Linked DNA regions of Homo sapiens. The protein of the gene in region 1 purifies or fractionates together with the protein of each later gene. This does not show direct contact. Each region holds a gene or a part of one and is shown in the gene's direction. Other genes may lie near its edges.

Region 1 (6,100 bases):
ATATAATATAAATATAATATATAAATATATATCCATATATGGATATATAATATATAAATATATTTCCATACATATATATGAATACTACACAGCCATAAAAAGGAATGAATTAACAGCATTTGCAATGACCTGGGTGAGATTAAAGACTATTATTCTAAGTGGAGTAACTCAGGAATGGACAACCAAACATCATATGTTCTCACTGATATGTGGGAGCTAAGGTGTGAAGATGCAAACGCATAAGAATGATACAATGGACTTTGGGGACTTTAGGGGAAGAGAGGGAGGCAGGTGAGGGATAAAAGACAACAAATATGGTGCAGTGTATACTGCTTGGGTGATGGGTGCACCAGGTTCTCACAAATCTCTACTAAAGAACTTACTTGTGTAACCAAATACCACCTGTACCCCAGTAACTTATGGAAAAATATTTTTGTTAAAGAAAGAAATATTTTCCATCTTCCTCAGCGCTAAGTTTATAGTCTGCCACTGTGCACCCTTATAACGATCCTTACATCTAAATGAGATATTCTCATTAAACTTTTCCTATTTCATTAGAAAAATACGTTAAAGTTTGTAAATAGTGATTTTAACATCAAAACTTGCCTTTAACTAGAGGGCCCTAATTCTGGCTCTGCAATACCTATTACATGTCTGTAATTATTATTAATGTTATTGATCAATTTTTCCTACTTTTCCATCTTCTGTGCACATGCTAAGACAGCACTTCCTGACCCTGCTGTAGTCGAATGGGTACATATGATTAACCTTGGTCAATGAGCTGTGAGAAAAACTGGCAATGAGTTACTTACTTTTGGGCTAGAGCCTATAATTACCTACTTAAGACCATCCAGAGCTCTCTTTTCCTCTATCACAATGATAATCAAAATTCCAGAGAGTGACCACTGCATCAGCCTAGGTTTATGAGTGAGCATAGCATGAGACAGACCCTCAATACATTTGAAGTACAAGAGAAATAAATCTGTATTGTTTAAAACCACCAAGATATGTCAATCATTTGTTACAGCAGCGTAAACTATCTTAACTTGAGAGATGACTTATTCTTGGACAAGTCACTTTCCCTCTCTAATTTTTAACGTCATAATCTGATTTAACAAATAAAGGGAAAAAATTAACATTTAGTGAGCATCTCTTAAGTATAAGTTGCTTCGTTATATATAATTTAATTTAGTCTTCTCAATGACCATAAAAGGTATTATCTCCTGCAAAAATATTCCTAAATCCAAAGAAATCTCTCAACTCCACTGCTCATAGAATCCAAGCCACTACTATGTCTTACTAGCCTCTTACCTACCTTCTGTTAAAATTTCTCCCTCGTTAATTCTCCAGTGCAAAATCTTTTAAAGACTTCTCCCTGCCATTTGAATCAGAGCTAAACTCTCTTCCATGGCCTATAAGAGTTTACATGAACCTGTACCTGCCAGCCACTTCAATCTAAGCATTCATACTTTGCTGACCACTTATTAAATTCCAGTTATTCTGGTCTTCCTGATATTTTTAAAACCTATCCAGCTTGTTTCTGCCTCAGGACCTTTGCACTTGCTATTACTTTTGCTGAGTAATACACTTCCCTTAGCTCTTTCATGACTGACTTCATCATTCAGACCTCAGCTAAAGTGACATCTCCTGAGATAAGTTTTCTTTCACCATCCTTGATAAATAATTATTTATCAATTACTATCTGAAATTATATTATTAATTTATTCATTTGCTTGTGTGTTTTCAGAATTCCCTACTGCAAGAAAAGCTCCACTAGGGCAGAGACCTTGTCTTGCTTGTACACTAGTGTTTCTACAAAGCTTAGAACATTCCCTGGCAAATAGTGAATCCTCAAGAAGTTATTGTGGAACGCAATCGAATTAATGATGCAGATAAGGAAATAAGCCTCTAAGAGTTTGGGTAACTGTGCCAACTTTCCTAAATTTCTATGAGTGTTCCTAATTCTGAAGTCCATTTGCCTTTTGCTTACAGCAAAGCTCTGCTGAGACTGAAGAGTCAGTTAGCAGTCAGGGCTAGGCACTGTGCATGCGCCCTTTCAGGCTTCGGATTCTATCGTTGATGCAGTTAAAACCAAAAAGTCACATTAATCATGTTATCACATTAATCCCCAGAGAACCCTGAATTTCCAGTGGAACAAGATAACTTGAGAAATCTATTGATCTCCTATTTTCATCATGCTGTACGGCTGACAAGGGTTAGTGGAGATTGGTATTCTTTTGCCCATGGCCCTGCAACTTTAATTTCTATGTCTACCCAGATTCCCACAACTTTGCAACCTGCATTGCTCAAAGTGCCCATCCATGAAGTTCGAGTGGCTTCTTTTGTGTCAGCTCTGCCTTCCCAGCTCCTTCCCATTCAGGGAGAGGTCTCTGCCTCCTCCCCTGCTTCCTGACTCGAAGCCAGCACCCCTCTCCTCCAGTGCAGCCTAACACACTCTCATTGGCCCTCAGCCTGTCAAGGGGAGGGGCTTGTGTCTCCGGGGCTCTTCAAAAGGGATCGGCGGTCCAGGCAGCCTAACCTGGAGGGTGAAACACTCACTCTCTCCCAGCCTTCCTTACGAAGCCTGTGACTTTCGTGACTGCTTTCTCTTTTTTGTTTTCCTTTTTTCTTTTTTTTTTTTTTTTCCTGGCTCAGCTTGAAACAGAGCCTCGTACCAGGGGAGGCTCAGGCCTTGGATTTTAATGTCAGGGATGGAAAAACTTCAGAATGCTTCCTGGATCTACCAGCAGAAACTAGAAGATCCATTCCAGAAACACCTGAACAGCACCGAGGAGTATCTGGCCTTCCTCTGCGGACCTCGGCGCAGCCACTTCTTCCTCCCCGTGTCTGTGGTGTATGTGCCAATTTTTGTGGTGGGGGTCATTGGCAATGTCCTGGTGTGCCTGGTGATTCTGCAGCACCAGGCTATGAAGACGCCCACCAACTACTACCTCTTCAGCCTGGCGGTCTCTGACCTCCTGGTCCTGCTCCTTGGAATGCCCCTGGAGGTCTATGAGATGTGGCGCAACTACCCTTTCTTGTTCGGGCCCGTGGGCTGCTACTTCAAGACGGCCCTCTTTGAGACCGTGTGCTTCGCCTCCATCCTCAGCATCACCACCGTCAGCGTGGAGCGCTACGTGGCCATCCTACACCCGTTCCGCGCCAAACTGCAGAGCACCCGGCGCCGGGCCCTCAGGATCCTCGGCATCGTCTGGGGCTTCTCCGTGCTCTTCTCCCTGCCCAACACCAGCATCCATGGCATCAAGTTCCACTACTTCCCCAATGGGTCCCTGGTCCCAGGTTCGGCCACCTGTACGGTCATCAAGCCCATGTGGATCTACAATTTCATCATCCAGGTCACCTCCTTCCTATTCTACCTCCTCCCCATGACTGTCATCAGTGTCCTCTACTACCTCATGGCACTCAGAGTGAGTATCTAGGCTGGGGTGGCCTGAGGCAGCATCCCTTCTTTTTTCACAGGCTCAAAGTTCAGAGAAAAACTTAGAATTGGGGAAATTCAGAAATGGAAGGGAACAGAGGGAAAATAGAATGAGCTCAGATGGGAAATTGAGACTTAAAAGGACTTGCCTCAAATGAGATGAATGGTAACCACAACTATTTATCATTTCCTTTAGCTCGTCTTCTATTTTTCTTCCCTCTATTCTTGGGGTTCTCGTATCTAAATGTTCCTAAGAATCATGCAGAAAACTTACTTTGGGAGCAATATGCATACCTCACCCCCAGGAAAATGGGATTCAGAAGGTCTGAGGTGGAGCCTCATTTTAAATAAGCACATCAGGTGATCTGGGGTGAGGTGGCCACACTTTGAGAGACTTCTCCACATCCTGTTGTCACTTTCCAGCCCCTGGCCACTGCCTGCATTGAGATTTTCCTGTACACCAACTTGGTCTGAGTATAACACAAACTATCCCTGCCTATTTTGTAGTCCAAGATAGGTATTCAGTTTTAAAATCAGACATTTACTGTGGTTGCTCCGACCCTTTCATTAAAATGAGGTTGAAACAAAACAAAATAAAACTATATATATTATATGTATAGTTACATATATAATATATAGTCATATATATAATATATAGTTATATATAATATATAATCATATATATTAATGACATGACTGAGATAACTTGAGCTTCTTTTGAGCAGGTGCAGATTGAGAGATAAGGAAGTAAACAGCACATGAGATAGAGTGAAAAAATGTGAATAAGAGCTTATCTGAAATTAAGAAAAAGATATCACTTATTTTGCAACATATATAATTAGAGGTTCTTTTCCTATGTTTATGGTGGTAAACTGATTTCTTTTTCAGAAGGGGGGTGTCTAAATTAGCTGAGAGAAACTATTTTTAATAAGGGTAGGAATTAGTCTATATAATTCCTCTCTGGTATATTCTGCACCCAAATTCATGAAGAGAAAAGTTCTTCACAATGACAATTTTACACCCACTTAAGGGAGGTATTATAGCTTGTGTAGTAAACAGTTACGAGACCATTTAGACTCCCAGATCTACAGCTGACATATAATATGCCTTTAGGCAAGCCACATCATTCTCCTGGAATTAGTTTTCCCGTGTATAAAATGAAAAGGTCACATCAGATCCTATCTATGTCCCCTGTAGCTCTAACAGTCTATTATTCCTTTAAAAAAAGAAAAAAAAACACCTGTGAGCTGAAGTAATGTGAGTTTTAAATGACAGGACAAACAGATATCACATTCACATCATTTGCTTTGAGATGGCTCTGACATCACACTTTATGTGACAACTAATATACTCCTATTTCAGTCCATCTCTGAGAAGCCGATTGTCAGAAGCGAGTGCCCAATGGTAGTCCTTTTGAATACCTATTGTCCCTAAGGTGAATAGCGAGGTCTAAGTAGGAAGAACAAATTCTAAGTGTCACGGACATCTGGGCACAAGAGTAAATCTAATTAGGCAGAGAGCTGTGCCAGTCCCCTCCTGGAGGGCTAGCACCTGTATTCCCAGAGACATGTCCCACCCCGCACTAGCTCACAGCCATGTCTTAAGAACGTCCTGCACATCTCACTGCGGGGAAAAGACTTCTATACAACTCCAAAGAAAGTCTTATGAGAAATACCCACCCACTTAATATTACCTCATCCAATGCCAAACAGTCACCTATTTTGGGTCAATTTGGGAAAAATATTTAACTTTGAGTAGGAAATGCACAGTTCCTCTTCCAATCTGTTACAATCAGTTTCATTGTGTTTTATTATCAAAAGTCCATGGCTACCTTGTATCAGGAGGTAAGTGACAGCTCAGACAAAAGTTTAAAAACCACCCTGGTTTGCTTTGTGTATGTAATGCAACTTTTGACAGCCTGTTTTCAGGAAGGATGAGCTGTTATCCAGGGTACCAGAGGACACCAGGAAAGAAACTAACGCTTACAAAGTCACTTCTAGAAGAATTTAAAAATCTCTATACTGAAACTCAGGAAAAGTAGGCCCTATTCTGTGTCACTGATCGCAGGGCCTTTATGTACACTATACCTGTAGCCTGAAATGTTCCTACTGTCTGCCACCACTCCCCCTTTTGCCTTTCTAACCCTCATTTATTCTCTGTGTCATACTTCAACACGCTTCCTCAGGGAAGCTCTCCCAGATTCCCTGAGCATCCCTGTTTCCTGTTGTAGGTACTCATGGCTCTCCGTGATTTTCCTTCATTACAATTTATATTTCCATACTTATGGATTCCTTAATTAATTGTTTTCTCCCCAACTAGACTGTAAGCTCAGTGAATGAATGAGGCCAAATTACTTCCTTCATTGCTGGGCTTTAGCTTCTCTACCTTTAAAACAAAGACTTGGAAATATCATCTCAAGGAGACCCAAGCAATCCTAATGATTAAGTGAGTGACTCTGTTGGATAGTTTGAAGGTATGATTGACTCTGGGACCCACTGCTTTCAGAAGGCAGCAAGCCCAAGACTGATGAAATCACAGGACCAGAGAAGAAGGAGGAAACCCATATCTGTGCTCACAGCTCGGCATTCAGTCACGCTGCATCATTCCAGGACACAGCCACCACTGAGCTGTTCTCCAGGCTTTGAACATTATAGAGATAGA
Region 2 (3,987 bases), about 150 Mb from region 1:
AGCTGAGTGTTTCTGAGGGTGGATCCCAGAGTCATTTTGTGACGGCCGTGTGGTGGGTGGGGCAGGAGTCCCTGGGTGCTGGGGAGTGTGAGGCCCGCCAGGGCCTTGAGGGGTAGACCTCCCCCTCCCACTGTGGGGCATGGGAACCCCGTGGAGCCCAGTGGGGCTGGGCGTGGACGGCATTCAGGAGTGGACCAGCTGGTCTTCAGGGCAGTGGGCTGGGCTGGGGGTGTCTGGGGCCTGGTGAGCAGCTGGCTGGGGGCCCTCCTGGTAACTGACATGGGGGGCTGGTCTCCTTTGGCCTTCCTTCTCAGATGCTGGGGAAGTGCTGCCCAGGGACAAGGGCAGAGCACAAAGGGTTAATACCTTTCCTTTATGAAGAAAGGGGAAACTCCCTTTTGGGGGCAGAGGCCTGTTCTGTGCAGATAAACCTCTGGCTTCAGCGCAGCAGCCTGAACGATGAGCTCCTGAACGATGAGCTGCCTGGCTGGCCATGCTGTCCAGGCCCTGCCTCTTCCCCTGTTTGTGGCCGCTGACTCCCCAAGGGTCCTGGAGCCTCTGGCCGGGAGTGCCGGGGGGCAGGCCCACGGCAGGGTCCCCTTTGGCTGGTGGGTGACTGCAGGACCTCATCCCTGTGGGGAGGGTCCTTTTGGCTGGTGGGCGACTGCAGGACCTCATCCCTGCAGGGAGGGTCCCCTTTGGCTGGTGGGTGACTGCAGGACCTCATCCCTGCGGGGAGGGTCCTTTTGACTGGTGGGTGACTGCAGGACCTAACCCCTGCGGGGAGGGTTCCCTTTGGCTGGTGGGTGACTGCAGGACCTCATCCCTGCGGGGAGGGTCCCCTTTGGCTGGTGGGTGACTGCAGGACCTCATCCCTGCGGGGAGGGTCCTTTTGACTGGTGGGTGACTGCAGGACCTCATCCCTGCGGGGAGGGTCCCCTTTGGCTGGTGGGTGACTGCAGGACCTCATCCCTGCGGGGAGGCTCCTCTTTGGCTGGTGGGTGACTGCAGGACCTCATTCCTTCGGGGAGGGTCCTTTTGACTGGTGGGTGACTGCAGGACCTCACCCCTGCGGGGAGGGTCCCTTTTGGCTGGTGGGTGACTGCAGGACCTCACCCCTGCGGGGAGGGGCGTGTGCTGCCGTTGCAGGGGTCTCGGGGTCCGAGTGGTGCTTGCGGCCCTGGGCTGTGACGTGGGCCCCCATCCTGCCAGCCCGTGCCTGTTTCCGCTCTCCCCTTGGGCGGTGTCTTTTTGAGGAAACAGTTGTGGGGAGGAGAGTGCTGCTTCTGAATCACGTGTGGACCTGGGGTGGTTTGTTTCCTGCGTTCTGGGGTTTTCTTGGGCAGCACCCCACACGCACCCCACACGCACCCCCCGGTGGGCCTCGGCTCTGTGGGGAGTGGTCCTGGGGTCCGGGATGAGAGTGGGCCCCGCCCAGGCCTGTGTTGACCCCTGGAGTCAGATTGCCATCCACTGTAGTGGTTACAGTGGCTCTGGGAAGTTTGGGGGCTGGGACCTGAGCCCAAGGCTGGCCATGGATAGCCGCACGCAGCATGCCCGTGTGCTTGGTTGGCATGCCTGGTTTGTGTGTCTGCCATGGCCTGGAGCTGTCCTCATGGTGGGGTAGCCCCGCTGGCCCTCCCAGCGTTCCTGTCCATTTAAGTCCCGTGCACAGGGGATGTCCACCTTGCAGACGTGCAGCCGGGAGGAGGTTGTTAAAGTGATCCTTGAACATTTGCTCTGTGCCTCAGTTTCCCTTGGCAGGAGCCAGCCTGTCACGAGGGTGGCGGTGGCTGTGACCTCTCATCTCCTTGGCTCTGTCTGCAGACCTCTGGCGCCAGCGGGTCGGGCCTGGGCTTTCAGGGAGGCTCAGAGACGCCCTGGGCAGTCACTGGGGAGGGATTGAGTGGAGTGGAAATCGGAGGAGGGAAGTGCGCCAGGCCAGGCCCCTCCTGGGTCCCCTCCATGCCGCCAAGGGTCCCCGACCGCAGCCCAGAGGCAGCCTGTAACAGGAGCCGCCCTGGGAGGGCCTGGCAGGTGCGCTGGGGGCCCTGCCTCTCCCGCCTTCCTTCATCTCTGCTCCTGCAGGCTGCCTGGGCCCCGAGTCTCTGGAACTAGGGGACCCCACGGCCCCTCCATGGCTCAGACGTCACTCTGGCTGCTGAGGGAGGAGGCTGGACCAGGACCAGCAAACAGCCACGTGACAGAGGGTTCGGGAAGTGAGTTCACCCGAGGCCACCTTCCCGCGAGCAGGCGTGTCCTTTAGATGGAAGGGCTGTAGTCCCAGTGCATGCCTGTGTCCTGGGCACCCCGCCCCGTGGGTCGTGCAGTCTGGGGGCTGTAGCCCCTGGGACTTTGTGCAGATGTGTGTGCTGCAGGTATGTGTGTGTGTACACGTGTATGTGCGGGTGTTGGTGTGTGTATGTGACTGCGGGTATGGGTATGCACATGTGAGGACAGGTGCGTGTGCAGGTTTGCGAGGTGAGTGTTGTGTGTATGAATGAGGGGGGAAGCGTGTGAGTATGGGTATGGAGAGTGTCTTCCGTGTGAGCAAGTTTGCGTGTGCACGTGGAAGTGCCTGTCTGTGCATGTGTACACATGCATGTCTCTGTGCATGTGAGTGTATATTTTCTGTGGCGTGTGTTCATGTGTGTCTGGCCATAGCTTGCCAGGACCTTCCAGCCAGGCTTCCTTGCTTCCAGTGCCTCTGACGGTGAGCTGGGATCTCCCGGCGCTCTCCTGGTTTACAGGATACTGGCGGTGGTGTCTGCACAGACTGTTGGGATGAGGTCACTTCGGGAATGGGTGATGAAGGGCCTGTTTTTCCCTCAGAAGGCAGCGCTGCTTTAGCCAGAAACTTGTGCTGGAAGCCTGAGAGCTTGCCTGAAGCCCCCCGTGTCCCAGCCTGAACACTGGGCCGTTCTCATCCTGTGCCCCTTGAGAGCCTCAGTTTCTAGATTTTAGGGGCCCACACAGCACAAACTGTGAGGGGCAGAGGGAGGGCAAGGGCCAGGGGTCGTCAGCTGGCGTTCGGATCCTGGAACCTAAACACACTTTATTTCAGTGCCCGGCACCTTCACAGGGAGCCCAGCCTCCAGGCAGTGGGGTTGGGAGTGTTCCTGGGTCCTCGCGCCTTCACAGGGAACTCAGCCTCCAGGCAGTGGGGTTGGGTGGGGGGTGCTCCTGGGTCCATTCAGTCTCGGGCTGTCCCCAGAGGCCACGTGAGCTGATGCCACTGGGTCACCAGGTGGGACTCATTCTGCTGTGAGTCCCCTGTGGCTCCAGGGGAGGGTGGCCTGCTGGACCCAGGGGACACACAGAGCCAGGCCTGAGAACCTCCTCGAGTGCAGGGAGCCGGGAAGCCTGGACTTGCTTGTCCCCTGCCCCAGGCCCGGCGCCTCTCTGTGTGCACAGGTCCGGTGCCACCCGCCACTGCTCTGCAGGGCTGGGTAGCTGGACGGACCACCCACGCTGGAGGGCAGGAAGGGGCGGAGGCTGTCGGACCTGGCTTCAGCTTCACAGCCCCTCCTGCCTGTCAGCTGCTTCCGGCTGAGGCTGAGTCTAAGAGGACGTTCCTAGAGCCCTTTGCGGAGAATGGCTGTAAAATCCCAAAACGCGGGAGGAAGAGGGGGAGGGATGAGCCACTGAGAAAGGGAGGAGGTTGTGCCTGGAGATAGGGAGGCTGATGGAGGCATTGTGATCTCAGAGGGGATTAGGGCCGATTAGGGAGGTGAGCCAGCTTCTCCCTGCAGAAACTACCCATGAACGCACTTCCCAGGCCTGGATCGGGATGGGTCAGGGATCTGACACACACACTCTCACTGCCTCTCTGGCTGGAGGGGCTGCCCCTCCTCTGGCCGGGACACTCGTGTGTCTGGTCTTTGCCCTTCCACCTGCAGCCGCCTCCTTCCCTCTCGGGGTGGGGACACAGCCTGGTTGGACAAGCCCAGGAGGCTGTTCCCCAAGGGCCCAGCCCATCAGGATCTG

What was found.
Region 2: the proteins of NMUR2 (region 1) and SLC12A7 purify together in Homo sapiens (affinity purification with mass spectrometry; 2 studies listed by BioGRID and IntAct, with this or other methods). This does not show direct contact.

Annotation. Positions count from the first base shown.
Region 1 is NC_000005.10:152,401,716-152,407,815, reverse strand, and holds the start of NMUR2 (neuromedin-U receptor 2), read left to right. Parts: upstream 1-2,536; 5' UTR 2,537-2,702; coding exon 2,703-3,428; intron 3,429-6,100. UniProt on the Homo sapiens protein: Receptor for the neuromedin-U and neuromedin-S neuropeptides.
Region 2 is NC_000005.10:1,102,064-1,106,050, reverse strand, and holds part of SLC12A7 (solute carrier family 12 member 7), read left to right. Parts: intron 1-421; exon of another isoform or gene 422-493; coding exon of another isoform or gene 494-608; intron 609-1,340; exon of another isoform or gene 1,341-2,137; coding exon of another isoform or gene 2,138-2,219; intron 2,220-3,987. UniProt on the Homo sapiens protein: Mediates electroneutral potassium-chloride cotransport when activated by cell swelling. May mediate K(+) uptake into Deiters' cells in the cochlea and contribute to K(+) recycling in the inner ear.